2 separate regions of the Homo sapiens genome follow, and region 1 is linked to region 2. A link means that fine-mapping ties the variant in region 2 to the expression of a gene that starts in the linked region. Tissue or cell type: whole blood. Region 2 holds a variant in brackets; the other region holds the start of a gene. All regions are shown on one strand. Distances are between the middles of the regions.

The links. PIP is the estimated chance that this variant, and not a neighbour inherited with it, causes the effect.
Region 1: it holds the start of KCNQ1, and the variant in region 2 is fine-mapped to the expression of KCNQ1 in whole blood (TOPMed, PIP 0.99).

What each region holds. Positions count from the first base shown.
Region 1 is chr11:2,441,507-2,449,605 of GRCh38, reverse strand. It overlaps KCNQ1 (potassium voltage-gated channel subfamily Q member 1), which reads right to left and starts at 4,598. Exons shown (of 16, transcript NM_000218.3): 1 at 4,122-4,598. The coding sequence starts at 4,507. It overlaps TRPM5 (transient receptor potential cation channel subfamily M member 5), which reads left to right and starts at 5,092. Exons shown (of 29, transcript NM_014555.4): 1 at 5,092-5,175. RefSeq lists silencers at 4,609-4,678, 4,689-4,798.
Region 2 is chr11:2,845,215-2,853,313 of GRCh38, reverse strand. KCNQ1 (potassium voltage-gated channel subfamily Q member 1) reads right to left here. Exons shown (of 16, transcript NM_000218.3): 16 at 4,209-5,547. The coding sequence ends at 5,311. All of the region lies in intron 2 of KCNQ1-AS1 (KCNQ1 antisense RNA 1), which reads left to right. Among named protein-coding and RNA genes, the nearest start is that of KCNQ1-AS1, 12 kb to the left of the region's middle. The variant C/T (reference allele first, on the strand shown) is at 4,832.

The DNA of each region.
Region 1 (8,099 bases), 400 kb after region 2:
TTTGGAGCTGTTCACCCTTCCTGTCCTCTGCAAGACGTGCCACATGCCAGGATGGCACGTGGCAGAACTCATAGCAGCAGCTGACGTGCCAGCTCCCTGGCTCCAACCACCTGACCCCGCACTGGCCGGCCCAAAAGCATCCCAGGCCTTCAGGCCCAGCGGAAGTTCATCCCATCGGTACCCAGGAGTGTCCCCGCAAAGCCCCTCCCTCAGACCCGGCCCTGTGACACAACGCAGCCCGCACGTTATATGCAAAGGTTCCAGTACCTCGCAACTGCCAAGCAAAAAGGGACCCTCCTGCCCCCAGTACCCCAGGGTTGTAGGCTCAAGCTGCGGGCACCATGCCCACAGGGAGCTGTGGCTTCAGTGCCAGGCACGGGTGAATGTTCCCTCCAACCGAGGCACCCTGCACTGAAGGTGCCAGCACCAGGAGCCTGCCACAGAGAATGAGACGCAGACTCAGAAGGCCCAGGACCCTGGCCAAGGCAGCCCAGCCACAGGGCCATGCCCAGACACAAAGCCCTGCCACCTGATCCATGCCCACCAGGCACTGCCCAGGCCACCTGCAAGGACCCAAGTCCCTACCACCCTCCTGATCCCCTGTCCCCACACAGGCTGGGGAGGCCCTTTCTCCCAGGCTCTAGGCTCTTGCCACCTGGACTACCCCCTCCCCAGCTGACGGCCAGGGGTAAGGGATGCCTGTGTTCCCCCCAACTAGTACGAAGCCACAGTTAGGCACTCGACATGTTGGCAAGAGCGGATCTAGAAACACTGGGCCGGGTCTGCGATGTAGGTGAGGGGACCCCAGACAGCCAGGGGATGAGACCAAGGGCTCATGCCCCACAGAAGGTAGCACTGGGAAAAGCCCCAAAAGGAATTCCCAGTTTTCCTGGGAATCTAGGGCTGAGGAGTGGGTGGACAGATCTTAAAGAAGATGGAGAGAAAGAGACCTGATGGCTCAGAGAGCCCCGTCCTCCTCTGTGCCCAGCCCCACCACCTGCCTTGGCCTCTGGCCTCCCTGCCCAGCTGCAGAACAACTGCCCAGCAGCTGCTTCAGACTCCAATGCCAGAGCCTGGAGATAGGAGGGCACTGGAGTCCACAAAGTTGGGTGCTGCACCCTGAGAGCTGGCTCTGCATGGCCTTGTCTTTTGGGGAGGCAGCCAGATCAGCCCCATCCACCTCTGGGACCTGCTTCTGGCTCCATTGTTGATTAACACGCACCCGCGAGGGTTCTGCCAACACCCCTGGAAAGTTCTTGGGAAACAGGGAAAGCCAAGGCTGTAGGAGCGGGGAACAGGGGCTGCTGAGCCAGACTTAGGTTTGAGAGCCTACAGGGGCAGTCTCCATGCACTGCAGGTCCCCCCTCAAATCCCTCTCCTTGGCCACAACCAGGATCTCCAAGCATCTCAGCAACCAGAGTAGATGCCACCTGGATGTCCACACCCCTGGCTAAGGCTCACAGCAAGGGAGCTAGGACCGCTGGGTGCAGCAGGGCTGTATGGACCCCCATCCCCTCAGCTAAGATGGGAGCTGCCCCCAGTGGGGGCGCAAGCAACCACAGATAACTGGGGGTGTTGGGGGCAGGAAGCCTAAGCGGGCAAGAGTTGTGGCCCAGGTGCCGTGTCCACCCCGGCCAGCCCAGGGAGGCCAGAAGGAACACAGGAAGAGCTGCTCTCCTGGGGAGGGGGGGTTCCCCGAGGAGGGGACAGGATATCCTGGCTGGCTTCCCCAGGCGCACACAGGAGAGTTCGCCCTAGCCCTGTAGGGTCAGCGGAACACCGGCTCCTGCCTCAACCCCCCTGCACACATGCCTGGGCCCTGGCTCTTCAAGGCCAGGCTTGTCGTCTTCAGGCCAGAAACCACAATATTTCTCATTTCACAATCCACCTAAGGACAGGGCCCTGTCTCCGCCACCATTGCCAAGACTTCTTACAGCAACACAAGGCTGGACTGGCGCAAGGCTGGACCTGATTTCGTGAGGCTGCAGGTGGCCTCCAGCTACTCTGCCATCCTGGTTCTATGACCAGGTCTCCCCTCAAGAGACTGGTCCTGCCAACCTCCTAGGGCACTGAGGGTGGGAGCGCATCTCCCAGGCCCCCACCAAGCCACATGTCCTGCCCAGTCAGGGTCCACCTCCAGTCCCACCCCACATGGAGGTACCTGGGTTGGAGGCTGTTCATGACAACTTCCCAGGGCCAGGCACACGTCTTACAAGGACAGGACCCAGAACTGGAAAGGACCAGCCCCAGATCTGGCCACTTCACAGAAGCATCCCTTTCCTGGCCACCCCTTCACAGAAGCCATCCTGCCCCTGTCCCCAGAAGCCACCCCTGCCTTGCCAGCTCTGCGGAGGCTGGGCGAAGGTAGACTCTTGCTGAGCAAACTTCCGAGACCTAAACAATCCAAATGAGGAAGAAAACACAAGTGCAAGCAGAGACTTCCTCTGGGGCGTGGCGAGCCCTCTTCCTCCTCTTCCTCCACACGGGTGGCTGCAGTGAGCCCGGAGGCATGTGTCCACAAACCTGAATACAAGTGAGAATTGAGGGGGTCTGCGGGCACTTTGCCTTGGCCTCTGGCTGAGGAGGTCTTCCCACCCTTGGACATCTCAGAGAGTCTGGGGTCCGGGAGGCAGGTGGCCACCAGCACACAGCACCTGTGAACCTGGCATCTGCTAGACATTTGCACAGTGGCATCGGACTGGGTTCCCCTGGGGTCACTGCACACAAATATCTCCCAAACCCCAAGCCGAGCCCCCGCTGTTGCAGCCACGAGCAGAGCCAGCTCCTCTCACAGACCAGCAGCGGCTGTGGCTCAGGCACCCACTGACATGTCAGGAGACAGGGGCTTGGGAGCTGGGGTGGGGAAAAGTCTCCAAGATCACCCCCCAACCACATCTTTGAGGAGGGAGGTGGGTAAGACTTCCCCTTCCTGATGTGGAAGGCCACCTCTTAGCAAGGAAGGCAGTAGCCCTGCGACCCCTACCCCACCCCCTCACCTGAGACGATGCTTGAAGCCATTTGGGGCCTGGCTCCTGCTGTCACCCGCCCTGAGGCCCTGGTGGCAGCTGCCAGCAGGCATGGACAGGCCTCTGGATGCCCTCCAGCCAGTTCTCTACTGAGCCTGCCCGAGGCAGAGGAGATGCTTCCACCTGAGGACGCTCAGGGAGACCACCCTTCAGCCCTCAGGTGAGCCCCACAGCCATCAGCCATGGGATGTCTGGGTAGAGGCTCCCAGGCCAGAGGCTGGCACCACACCAAAAGGCCGCTGGCTGGGCAGCCAGGAAGTAGGGCCACTGGGGCAGCGGGGGAAGGCCCCAGGCAGGCATGGAGGAGAGCAGCCTGGACCTTCCCGGAGGTGACTTCCCAGGCCTGTCCCTGAGAAATCCAGTGCCCAGCCCTGCTCAGGCACGCTGTACCGGGAATTGGAACCACCTGGTAACAGGGGGGCCAGGTGCCTCTGCTACCAGCGCTGCTTTCTCCGGGAGCACAGCTGCCTCTTAGTGAGAGCTGCAAACGTGCCTCTCCGCTCTCTGCATCAAGCCAGGTTTTCATGAGCTTGGTTCAATTAGTTAATGTGGGGCCCGTGGGGACGGCCCGTGGCATGCTGAGCCCTCAGGGAGCACCGCCACCGTCACCTTCCTATCCTGGACAGCCCCCTGCCCCAGAGTCCACCTGGGCCTCAGGGGGTCTGAGATGCGGCACCGGACATCAGGGGCCTTCTCTCTTGGGGGCTCCTGAGCCTCGAGTCTCAGCCGACCTTGAGGAGTTATCTTACTGCACCCAAGGGTGCGCTCCCCAGCACGCTTCTCTTCCCAGAAGGATTCACACCTGGACTACCCTCCCGGAGGTGTGGAGCCAAATTCTGGGCTCCAGGTGGTCCCCTCCCCAGCCGGCTCCCTCCCCACGCCGGGCCTGCGAGAAGATGCGCACCCCCAGACACAGCAGCGCCTCTGAACTTCAAGGGAGAGTGCAGAGTTTGTGTTTCTGCGTTTCCCCACTTCCTTCCCTCCTCTGCTCCGGGGTCGCAGCTCCGACGGGGCAGGTGGCGCTGGGACAGAGCTCCCCCACACCAGCTCTCAGGAAGCACCTTCGTGCCGGCCGTCGCCGGTGGCGATACTCACACGGCGAAGTGGTAAACGAAGCATTTCCAGCCGGTGGGACGCTCGAGGAAGTTGTAGACGCGGCCCTGGACGTGGGTGCGCGCCAACACCGGGCGGCGCGTGCTGTAGATGGAGACGCGCGGGTCTAGGCTCACCGGCGGCCGCGGGCCAAGGTCGGAGGCAACTGGGGGCGCGGCGGGCGCGGCCGGGGACGCAGGGGGCGCGGGACCTGGGGCGCCGGGCGCGATGGGCGCGTAGAGCGCGCCGCCCGCCGGGCCGCCCTCCGCCAGCTCCAGCGAGAAGGGGCACTTCTTGGCCAGGCCCGCGCTGCCCCGCCGGGCGCCTGGCAGGCGGCCCCAACCCCAGCGCTTCCTCTCGGCCCTGGGCGGGGAGGAGGCCGCGGCCATAACGAGGAGGGCCTGCCGGGGGGCCGGCCCGAGCGGCGGCACCGGGAGCTGCAGCGAAGGCGAGCGCCCGGGCGCAGTGCGGGCAGCCACTGCTGCCAGCCCCGCCGCGGGGGGCCGCTGCCGGCCCAGCCCGGGCGCTCGGGGCGGGGCCGGAGGGGGCAGTGGCCGAGGGCCGGTCCCATGGGACGGCGTGCCCCGCCCCCGCCTGCACGCCCCGCCCCCGCCGGTCCGGCGCGCACAGGGCGTCCCTGCCCGCGCCCACCGGCTTGGCCCGCCCTCTCCCCACGGACCGGCCTGGCCCTGCCTCCGCCTCACCCCCTGGCTTGGCCTGTCCGCGCCCCCGCCCCCGCCTGCGCCCCCGCCCCCACCCCCACCCCCGCCCGAGCCCACCTGCTTAGCCCCGCTCGTGTCATCTATCCCGCTTGGCCCCGCCCCCTCCTCGCCCACCTGTTTGGCCCCGTTCCAGTGTGCATTTACCCCGCCTGGCCCCGCCCCCTCCCCGCCCACCTGCTTGGCCCCGCCCTCACCCACCTGCTTGGCCCCGCCCCGTCTGCATCTCCCCTGCTTGCTCCTGCCCTGCCCTCACCCACCTGCTTGGCCCCCACTTCTGATGCCCGCCTGCTCTGCCTGGCCCGGAGGAGGACCCCAGCTGCGCCAGGGAGGAAGGGGTAAGGCCTGGCCGATACCACGACCGAGAACGGCACAGCGGGGGCAGGAGGGGCGGGGTAGGGTGCCGGCATCTACTTTCCCTCCCTCTGAGCCACTCCGGAGTTGGGGTTGGGGGGAGGAAAGGGATGTCCTGGGTGAGGGTGTGCTGGCCCCGCGATCACTGTGAGCGCCCCCGGGTGCCCAGGCGCGCGAGCTGCGGGCGGCGAATACGCTCGGGTCGCTTCCCACCAGGGCCCTTGGACCGGGAGGGTGAGATGGGACCACCACTGTCAGGTACCTCCCAGTGGGAGCTGTGTGGGTGGGGAGCCGGCAGGGCTGCTGGGGGGTGGGGGCGGCACAGCCGGGGTCTGGACCTGGTTTGACTGCCGGGCATAGCAGGCGGGGCTGCCTGGGCAGTTAAAGGGAGAGGCGCTTGCGCCACCCTAGTAACTTGGAGAATGGGCGCCTTGTCCTCCCCACCGTCGAGACCGCGCTGCCGCTGCGCCCCGTGGATTCCCCTGGGTGGGGGTGGGTTGGTCACATCGGAAGATTTTCACAGGTCTCTGCACTGCCTCCCGCCCGCTACTGGCATTTGGGTCTCAGCACGTCTCAGGCTTGGGGGGGGGGTGGGGGGCAGCCAACAGAAGAGACCGGCTTTTTTCAGGATACTGCACACAGCCCTGAGGCAGGGACTAAAGGTGGAGCTCAGCGGTGACTCTCCGCCCCGCCAGGAGACCCATAACTCATGTGACACTTCCAGGTCGTCCCTGAGCACCCTGGGTCAATTTGATGTATCTACCACCCCCTGCCAAAAGTCTGCTCTTTTATCGTGGACGGAGTCCAGCCCAGGCCCTTGACGCCTGACTCCCCACCCTAGTGAGGTGCCACACAGGAGTGCACAGTCTGTATTTGCAGCAAGAGTGGATGGAGTGGGTCCCAGCTTGTGCTGGGCGCTGTGATAACACAAGGGAGGCCGAGGAGAGGGTACCTTCCTGGGAAGCATATCAGTGAAGGTGCAGAAGGGCAGCGGGTCAGAAGATGGGGGCAGTCAGTCAGCTCTGCAGGGCACACAGCACGCATTCAGCAGTTACTTTCCGGGTGAACATACATACACCTGCATGGAGTCTCTGCCTTCCCCTCCCACCTCAGCAGGAGGAAGGTGAGCTTTGAATAAGCAGCGTTTGGACAACTGGACAGTCATAAAGAAAGAAAAAGCATACCTTGGGTCCATCTCACCGCACACGAGAATAAATCTCAAATGAATCAGAGGCTCAAGTGTAAAGGGTGAGATGAAGCCATGCAAATTCTACAAGAATGTACAGGTCAATTCCTCAAGAACCTGTGAATCGGGAAAACATTTCCAACTATGACTTGAAATCCAAAAGCAACAGATAAAATAAGAAAAATTAAAATAGAAGCACCATTAGCAAAGTAAAGGAGACAAATGACCAAATGGGAAAAGTATTTGCAGTTTCGATCACAAAGGATTAATATCACTGATACATAAAGAACATCAAAACTGAGGTGAGGAACCTGCCAGACAGTCCTATAGAAAAGGGAGCAGAAGACATGAGCAGTTCATAGGAAATGGGGTTCATGACCTTTGCACTTATGAAAAAATGTTCAACCTCATTTATAACAAGAAAAATGCAAATGAAAAGTACACTCTGATACCACTGCTTGCTTATCAGATTGGCAAAAATCCAGACTTTTGATGGCAACTCTGTGGGAGAGGCAGCAGGCACAGGTGCACTCCTCATCACTGGTAGAAAAGAGACCTAGCGATATTACTAAATGTATCATTTGACACAGAAACCCCACTTCTAGGAAATAACCCAAAGATATGTAGGAAAAATAGAAAAGTACATATACATAATGATAGTCAAAACAGCATTTTTTATATTAGCAAAAGTCTAGAGACAATCACAATGTCCTTCAATCGCTTCAGCTGTGCTGTGGTACAGTCACACGATGGAGTGCCATGATCAATATGATCACTAATACTCAACCAAAGGATCCCAAAGAACTCTGTGTGTGTGTGTGTGTGTGTGTGTGTGTGTGTGTGTGTGTGTGTATCAAAGAATGATGCTAAATTCCTTTGGAACCAAGATTTTCAGTATAAAAGTGATACAGATTTAAAAAATCAAAGAAGTACAAACCAGTCCTTAAATTGAATGGACTATATTAGCATAGACTCCTCAGCTATTTTATCTTAGGAAAAAGGTATATCCTACTATTGTTCATTGTCAAGTTTGAGAAGGGGCTGATCAACAATGGGACAATTTGAGCATCAGAAAGAGTCATGGATGAAAACACATCAAATAGCTGAAAAGCCCATGCATTCATGATAATACTGAAAAATCCTATTTGATCTTCTGCAGGTTGCTTTGCTCATTATTCTGAAAACGAGTGAAAAGGCAGGGCGGTCAGGCAGGTCAAGCCTCCATATTTTAAAAATTCTAGGCCGGATGCAGTGGCTCACACCTGTAATCCCAGCACTTTGGGAGGCCGAGGCAGGCTGATCGCTTGAGGTCAGGAGTTTGAGACCAGCCTGGTCAACATGGTAAAACCCCGCCTCTACTGAAAATCCAAAATTAGCTGGGTGTGGTGGCACACACCTGTAATCCCACCTACTCAGGAGGCTGAGGCAGGAGAATCACTTGGACCCGGGAGGCAGAGGCTGCAGTGAGCTGAGATCGCACCACTGCACTCCAGCCTGGGTGACAAGAGCGAAACTCCATCTAAAAAAAAAAAATTCTAATAACTCACTAGGGAGGCTTCTTGGAGGCCCCCAGGGCTGTCTCCTGGGCCCTGAGCTGTGCCACAGCCTGCTGCTCTGGGGGTATGGGGTCCCATTGGCTTGGGGACACTGAGGCAGGAGAGAGACTGGACAAGGGATTGTCTTCAAGCTCCCTGCAAGCTCCAAGGAGCTGAAGGGGGATGG
Region 2 (8,099 bases):
AGCTGTGTGTTTGAGGCCCCAGAAGGCACCAGGATGGATTCTGTCCACTGAGCCATCCATGGCCACCTCTGGGCCCGGCTTGTGTCTTCCTGGGCCTCGGGCTCGCTGCCTGTACGTGTGCGAAACCCAAGCCTGGGGATAGGTGGGCGGTGGGGCTGGGCTTGGCTCTGGGAATTAAGGGCGGCCTCGTCCCCTCTGGGAGCCATGGGTGAGGGTCTAGAAGGAAGAGTGGGGAGCGGGCCCAAGCATCTCCTGGAGTCCAGCAGGGCTGCCCTGGGCCAGGCTGTCCATCTCCTTTACGCTCTGCCTCACTCAGGTGCCTTGAGCTGTGGGGGCTGCAGGGGAGGGGAGTTGTAGGAGGCCTGGTACGGGGTGCTGAAGAGGAGGGCCAGGAGGTCATAGCAGGACCTACTGAGGGAGAAGGATCTTGAGGGCAGAGTGGATGCCCCGCCTCCTATTACCCAGCCAGTGCCTGGGTGGGACAGGCTGGGGCCTTGGCCTCTAAGGCCTTGGGCTGGGGTGGCAGCCCCCAGCCCTCCTGCACTGCCCGACTGAGGGCCCTCTAGGCTTCCTCACCAAGGCTCCACAGTGGAGTTGGGAAGGGCCGGGGTGGGACCTGTCAGCTTCCAGGGGGCCCTGGCCCCGGCTGTCTGCACTCAGAGGCCAGTGGAAACTGAAGCTCTGTTTGGCTTTGGCTGCCCCAAGCATCCTCCAGGCCTGGCTGCCTGGGACCCTGGCTGACCTGGGTGGGGACAGGAAAGGTGAAGGGTGCTGGGACACAGGCCACAGGCCTGATCTCCCAACTAGCTGGCCCTCCAGGGCCACAAGAATAGGGCCAGAGGCAAGAGCGGGGTTGGTGCAGTTGGGGGCCGAGAATGGTGAGGCTGAGACACGCTTAAGATCCCCAAGGAGGCCGGGTGCGGTGGCTCATGCCTGTAATCCCAGCGCTTTGGGAGGCCGAGGCGGGCGGATCACGAGGTCAGGAGATCGAGGCCATCCTGGCTGACATGGTTAAACCCCATCTCTACTAAAAATACAAAAAAAAATTAGCCGGGCGTGGTGGTGGGCGCCTGTAGTCCCAGCTACTCGGGAGGCTGAGGCAGGAGAATGGCGGGAGGCGGAGCTTGCAGTGAGCTGAGATCGTGCCACTGCACTCCAGCCTGAGAGACAGAGTGAGACTCCGTCTCAAAAAAAAAAAAAAAAGATTCGCAAGGAACCCCTGGGTCCTAGAGCCCGGAGGGCTGTGCTGAGAGGAGGCTGGGGTGCTGGGGGGAGCAGGCTTTGGCACAGCTCAGATGGGCACTCCAAATTAGGGACTTGATATAGTTGAGAAAGGGCAGTCTTCATCCCTGCAGGTGACTCAGCAAATCCCCTGGAGATGGGGGTGCTGTGTGTGGTGGCCCCAGGAGCCCTGGCTCTTGTCTGCCTTCCTGCTCCTTCCCCCAGCTGTCTGGCTGCCCCAGATCAAAACACCTGGCCTGATCCCTCCTTCAGGGCGCAGGGTGTGGACCCCTCTCCTGTCCATTGGAGGGACGCCTGGTGATGCCCTGCTTGGGTCCTGGTACCTCTGCTGCACATGCAGCACTGGGCAGCCTCCTTCCAACTTTTCATTTTATTCCTTAATTTAACTGGCACTTCCTGAGCACCCAGCTGGGGCCAGGCTTGTACTAGGCACTGCCAGCCCCGGCTCCTTTTTGGGGCCTCAAAGGCCCAGCACAGCCCCTCTCCCAGTGGTGGGCCTGACTCCTGACCACCACGCTGGTGGGGGACTGCCTGCCAAGATGGTGCTCAGAGGAGGTCCTGAGTAGGGAGGGGGGCTGGACGTCAAGTACAGGGTGAGGATGGGGAAGCTGGGCTCATGGCGGGGGATGCCCAGGGTGAGTGGCAGGGTTGCAGCCTGTGGGGCCTCACAGGCCCACTCAGCAGTGGGGAGTCATGGTTGGCTTGAGAGCAGGATGGGGAACTGCCAGCTTGGGTTTGGACAGCTCTCCCTGGCACCGAGGGGCAGGGAGCTTGGTGGGGTAAGGCTAGATGCAGGAGGGGCCTCAGAAAGGAGCTCCGAGGCAACAGGCAGGAGAGCAGCAAGGAGGCAGAGCCCAGTATCACCCACCCAGGTGGTTTGTTTGGCTTCCTTTATTAAGCACCTACTGTGTGCTCACATGTCTCATCTCCATCAAGCCCCTGCCCCGTACGCCCCTTCTAGGGGGCACTTTTACTGTTCCCCATTTCGCAGACAGGACTGGGGTGGGAGCTGAGGGGCTGCAGGTCGGCCCCGCCCTTGACTCCTCCTCCTCCTGGCTCCCTGGCCCGAAGATGGGAGAACCTCGGGCTTGGCCAGTGCCAGCCCTAGAGACGGGCTTCCCCATGGCCACGCCCAGCACCCACGAGGGGACATCTGGGGGCAGGCAACGGGGGAGGAGAGCCTGGCAGAGGAGGTGGGTGCCCCAGGAAGCAGGAGCAGCCCCTCCCCCAGTCACCCCCAGCAGATGCTCCTGGCACCCATTGGACCCCGAGGACCTCAATAAGGGAGCCCAATTTGGAGACAAAGGCCGGCTCTGGGGACAAACACTCATGGCTATCCTCAGCCAGAGCAGCCAGGCAGCCGCGGTGAGGCCACAAAGGGCCCGAAGAAAGGGGCTGCGGGAGGGGCCGTGAATGGGTCGGGGCTGCACATGCCACCGTTGCCCGGGCGACGGCCCTCTCGCAGAGAGGTCTGCCGGGCCATTGTCCGGGGCCCGCAGGACGTGCCACACACCAGATGGTCGTGTGCTGTCTAGGTCACTTATCGGGGGACAGAGTGAAGGAATGCGGCCGGCACGGCGGGCCGAGGCGCCATCTGTTCCCTCAGTCCACGGGCACCGGCGGGCATTGAGCACTCGGCCGGCCAGGCCCAGCCTCCGCCATGGCTTTAATTAGCTAATTCCATAATTGGGCTTTATTTCAGGTAAATTGCATTTCACACCCGAGAGGGCTGCAATGGCCCGTCCAGGAGAGGAGTCCTCGGGCACTTTGTGCGCAGTCCATAATATGGACAACAAGGCGGGCTGGGTGCCGGGGCCGCGCCCGGCCCAGATGGGCGGCCCCACGGAGCTCCCTGTGGGCCAGGGTCCCGGGGTGGGCGGCCGGGGCTGGGGGGCCTGGGCGCTGTGGAGGGCCCTGCTTTCCGGCCGGCATCCCCGGGTTTCCACAAATATTTACCCAACAAGGAAACAACAGTTCCTGCCTTTCAGTAACTGCTGCTCCCGCTCCTCCCGGAGGGGTGCAGGCCAGGGAAGCCTGGGAAGCCCCGTGCTGCCCCTCCACCTCGTCCATCCCGGTCAGTGCTGGCCAGGCCAGATGCCAAGACCCATGGGTTGGGGGCACGGGCCCAGTGGGCTTGGCACCAGGTGGGACCCAGGGCCTTTCCCTCTAACAAGGGCTTCCACCCCTACTCCACACAGAAACCTGGGGCCCCTGTCCCTGCCACCTGCTGCTGGCCGCCTCCTGCCCCCAGTGGACTCAGGACAGCCCCATCCTTGATATCTCAGATGCCCCAAGCCCTCATATCCTGAGACTTCGGGATGGGCTCTGGAAAGAGGACAGAAGGCGGCTGCAGTCCTGAAGGACTGAGAAACGGTCCAATAGCTGAGGTGGGGGCACAGCAGATGCACCTGCCCCGGTTGAGTGTGTCTGTGCCGAGAGTGAGGCACTCTTTCCACCTTAGGAGAGGCGGGCCTCACAGAAAGCTGCAGGAACAGGGTCAGGGCGAGCAGGGTGGTGGCCCCTCTGTCCCACTCAGAGAACTGGACAGGCTAAGGGAGCATCGTGTTACCAATGGGGAAATAGAGGCCCGGAGGAGGCCAGGGGTGAGCATATGGGAGCCTCAGGGGCCCCAGGCCTTCCTTGCACCACAACCCCTCCAGAGTTTAGCCCTTGGCATCCTGGGGAATGGGCCTGGGTGGGGCCTGCTCCCAGAGTGGAGCATGTGGGTCCTTGATGAAGGGCCACCCTGGCCTGGGAGGGGCAGACAGAGAGGCCCAGACAGAGCCCATCTGCCGCAAGGGCATAGAGTCTGCTGGAAGACAGGCAGTGACCACACTGTGACTGCACTTCATGGCCAGGGCCAGCCCAGGGCCCAGAACAGGAGCGACGTCGCTAAGCTAGAGCCTTCGATGGCATCTTGCAGCCCCTCTGAACCCTGACCTACTCCTCAGTACACGGACATAGCGTTCCTATTCCACAGCCACCTGGGCACTGCTTCCAGGGGAACTGCAGGGGTCCTGTCTGTGAGAGACCCCATGGATGCCCCAGGAACCAAGGTGAGAGCAGTGCCCAGCCCAGCCTGTGATTCTCCACGTTTATTAGGAAAAGCTTGCACAATTAATAATCAAAATCACACTGTGAAACTCATTAAAACACAGATCCAAATCACCACAAATTATTGATTTCTATGCGATGTAATGCCCAGAAGGAACCCCTGTCCTGTGTAGGAACCGTCACTTCTCTGCGGCTCAGCAGCTGGCAAGGGGAGGTGGCAGTCCCCTTCTGTGTGTTTGGCTGGCTGCTGGGACTGGGCGAGGGGTTGGAGGCGGGAGCCCCACGCACAGTGGGCTCAGGGGCGGAGAGGCAGGGCTCCTCTCCAGCTAGGAAGAGCTGGCAGTCTAACCCAGGGAAGTGGGCGTTCCCCCCACTCAACCACGTGCCCTGGGGAAATGGTGAGACTGTCCCTCCTGCTGGAAGCTGGGGGCTCAGGAGCAGTCTCCACAGTCTCCTGCCCATGGGTCAGCATTTCCTGAGAGTGAGGGAGCCAGGCCCAGGCCCTCCAAATGGGCTCCTGGGCTTTTATTGCCGG[C/T]GGCCCTGTAGTCAGCGTGGGCTGGTCCTGCCCTGCCTGTGCCTGGCAGGGTCCTGGATTTGAGGCTGGGGTCCAGGGGTTGCTCTGTCTCCCCTCAGGAAGCCCCCTGGGCCAAGCAGGGTGGGCCTGCACTCAGCCTGTGCTACTTCCTGGCCATACATGGGCCAGGCCCTGTGCCCTGCCACTGGGTCCCAACCACCATGCCAGTGATGTCAACATCACCATGTGGGGGCCAGGGCGCTTGGGGTAACAACTCAGACCTGAGACGGGGCCCCCACACCGGCCAGGAAGAGGTGGCCTTGCTGAGCCCCCAAGTGCAGGCTGTGCCAGACAGCATGGTCCATGGGGTATTGGGGCCTCTGAGAGTGGGGCTCTTCTCTCTGGGCCTTTTAGGAGGTGGCCTCCTTCAGAGAGGGCCAGGTGGGGCCACTCTTGGCCTCCCCTCTCACTCAGGCCCATCCCCCAGCCCCATCCCCTCCTCAGGACCCCTCATCGGGGCCCCTCCTGGGCACGGTCAGCTGCTCGTAGGTGGGCAGGGTGTTGCTGGGCAGGAAGAGCTCAGGGTCGACGGAGCCGCCACTGCCGCAGGGCTGGGTGATGTGGGCCCCGCCCTCTCTGGGGGGGCCGCCGCTGCCGGGGGTGCTGCCACCGTGCAAGGAGAGCAGCTGGTGAAGCATGTCGGTGATGAGTGCCAGCCTCTGGTCCAGCTGCGTCACCTGCGGGGACAAAGGCAGACGAGAGAGTCAGTGGTGGGAAGCACCCAGGTGTGCAGACAGCCTCAGGGCCCAGGTTTGGGGCCAGAGAAGGGAAGGTGCCAACCGTCTCTGCAAGTGCATGCTGTATGCAGGCGGCACGCACGTGTGCACCCTATGTCTGCAAGGCCCTCGGTCGCGCCTGTGTGTGTGCAAGGAATGTGCATGTGTGCCGATTGGAGTCCATCCCGTGCGTGCTGGGAGTCCCTATATGTGTCCACAGGCATTCAGGCTCAGGGCCAGGAGCTCTCCTCTCCTCCTTCTCTGCTCCCCAGGCTGGCCGGCCTTCTGTGCCACATCCCCGCATGGCAGGGTCTGCACCAGGGACCCGGACCTGAAATATTTGGGTTTGCGGCAGCCTTTGGCTTCTTGAGGCCAGGCTTGGGGACATTTGGGTTAAGGGTCAAGAAAGGCTGGGGGCTATGTCTACTGTGTCTGGAGGAGAACTGGACAGAGGGCAGAGTTCAGCAAGGCTGGCTCATGGGCAGGGCCTGGGGTGGTTGAGGAGGCAGAGGGCTTGGGCTTTGCCTGGGTGTGCAGGGGATGCCCCTGCTGGGCCACTTCCAGGAGGGGCTTGCAGGGCACAGGGCTTGTGCCTCTGTGATGCTTTCTGCAAGGGGGTGGGGGTGGGTTTTTTTGTCATCCCCCAGGAACCATTATGCCATGTCTTTAACCTAGCGGGGACACCACTATTTTCCCAGACACCATCTGCACCCACATTCTGTGGTCAGAGCAGTGCCCTAGAGCGTGCCCTCTGGCTAGCCATGTGGCCTCCACCTTCTCAGGGGCTGGTTCTGCAGTGAGCTATGTGCCAGGGTGGCTGCCCTGCAAAGCTGGCAGGGAGGTCAAGGCAGGACAGAACCCGAAATGCACCCAGCACAGAGAGTAGGTGATCAGAGGCCTCGCAGTGCTGCGGAGGCAGCAGAGAAGCCCCAAACGAGTGGACAGCCAGGTGATCTGAGAGCTCCTTGGAAGGACAGCACCGCTGGGGAATGAGGCTGGAGCCCGCCCCGGGTGGGAAGTGGCCATCCAGCCTTGATGGGGAGACTGGAAGGCCCTGGCCGGCAGGCCGGCACCCTGGCACCCTCAGAGCAGGTGCTGGGTGGAGCAGGGCCAACCCCAGGGGCAGACTAGGGCAGGTGAGGGAGTCCAGGTTGGGGACCCCTCTCCCTAGGAGGTTGGACCTGGGGGCCCTAGCATGAGTGAGGGTTCGGGGAGGGCGCACAGCTCTGTTGGTGGCCACAGGAGACAGGGCTGGTCCTTCAGCCTGCGGTGTTCTTGCAGGAGAGCCCCTCAGCGTGCTCTGTGGAGAATGAAGTAGACCCTCCCCCACCGTGGGTACCTGGAGGCCTGGAAAGACCTAGAAGTGGTGGGGGAGGGGCAAACAGATCAGCACGCGATAAGGGCTGAACAGCAGAGCTGCTTCAGGGAAACGTATGGCTCCAGAGAGAGGCACGAAGATGACTCAGCCACAGCAACGTCAACCACTGGCCCTAAGCACAGGCAGCAGGCGGGAGCTGGCCCGGTCCACCTGGCCGTGCACTCCAGGGGTCTGCACCCTAGGCTGCGCCGGGCGGGCCTGGTCCCTCATGCGCCCGGCCCCACTGCTGATCCAGCCGGATAGGCTTGGGGTGAGGTGTGGGCCAGGGCTGGGTTCTGTGCGGGTGAGACAACCCCAGGGAAGATGCTGCTGGGTGACGTGGGCACAAGCCCCGGGATGGCCAGAGAGGGAGCAACCAGTTTGCTAGGGTCTGGGTGGACCCGGGCCAGCTTCAAAGGCTGGGTGCTGTGGTCGTCACCCACAGCACCTACCACGGAGGCTGAGCAGGCTAAGGAAGAGGCGGCCAACAGGGTGCTGTGAGAGGCTGAGATGAGAGGGGGGCGCCTGCCTGAGTGGGGCCGAGCGTCTGTCTAGAGGGCTAGGTGGGCAGCCTCCACCTGGGAGGGTGGGACTGTGCCCTGCCCAGAGCAGGAGCCCAGGGGACCCACTTCCAGCCCTGGGTGGTGGGGGCTGCAGTGTGGAGGCTCCCTGGCTCCCCTGTGGTTCTGCCTTGCAGGTATGGGGTGAGTCTGAGACCCAACTGTCCTGAACACAAGGGCAGGTGTACATCCGAGGTCTGACGGTCCAGGCCAGAGGGAGCCCCATGTTTTATTTTTCCCAGATAAACCTGATGTGAGGCCCAGACTATGGAGGAAAGGGGTGCAGGACTTCTGTGGTTTGGCAGGGGCAGGGGCCCAGGGCCATCCACCGGGGTCTCTCACACCCAAGGACCCGCCAGCACTTCAGTGCTCTGCAAAGCCACTTGGGGACGAGCCACAGAGGCCCACACTCCATCCCACAGATGCAGACACTGAGGCCCAGGAAAAGAGGGTCAGAGTCACTGGCTGAAAGTGCCATGTCTCCCATCCTGTCCCCACAGCTCCCACCCCAAGGCTCCATCTCGAGACCACGGAGCTGCCATATGGGGGGACACAGTGTGTCAGGTAGGGAGCCGGCGAAAGCAGAGGGCAGGGTG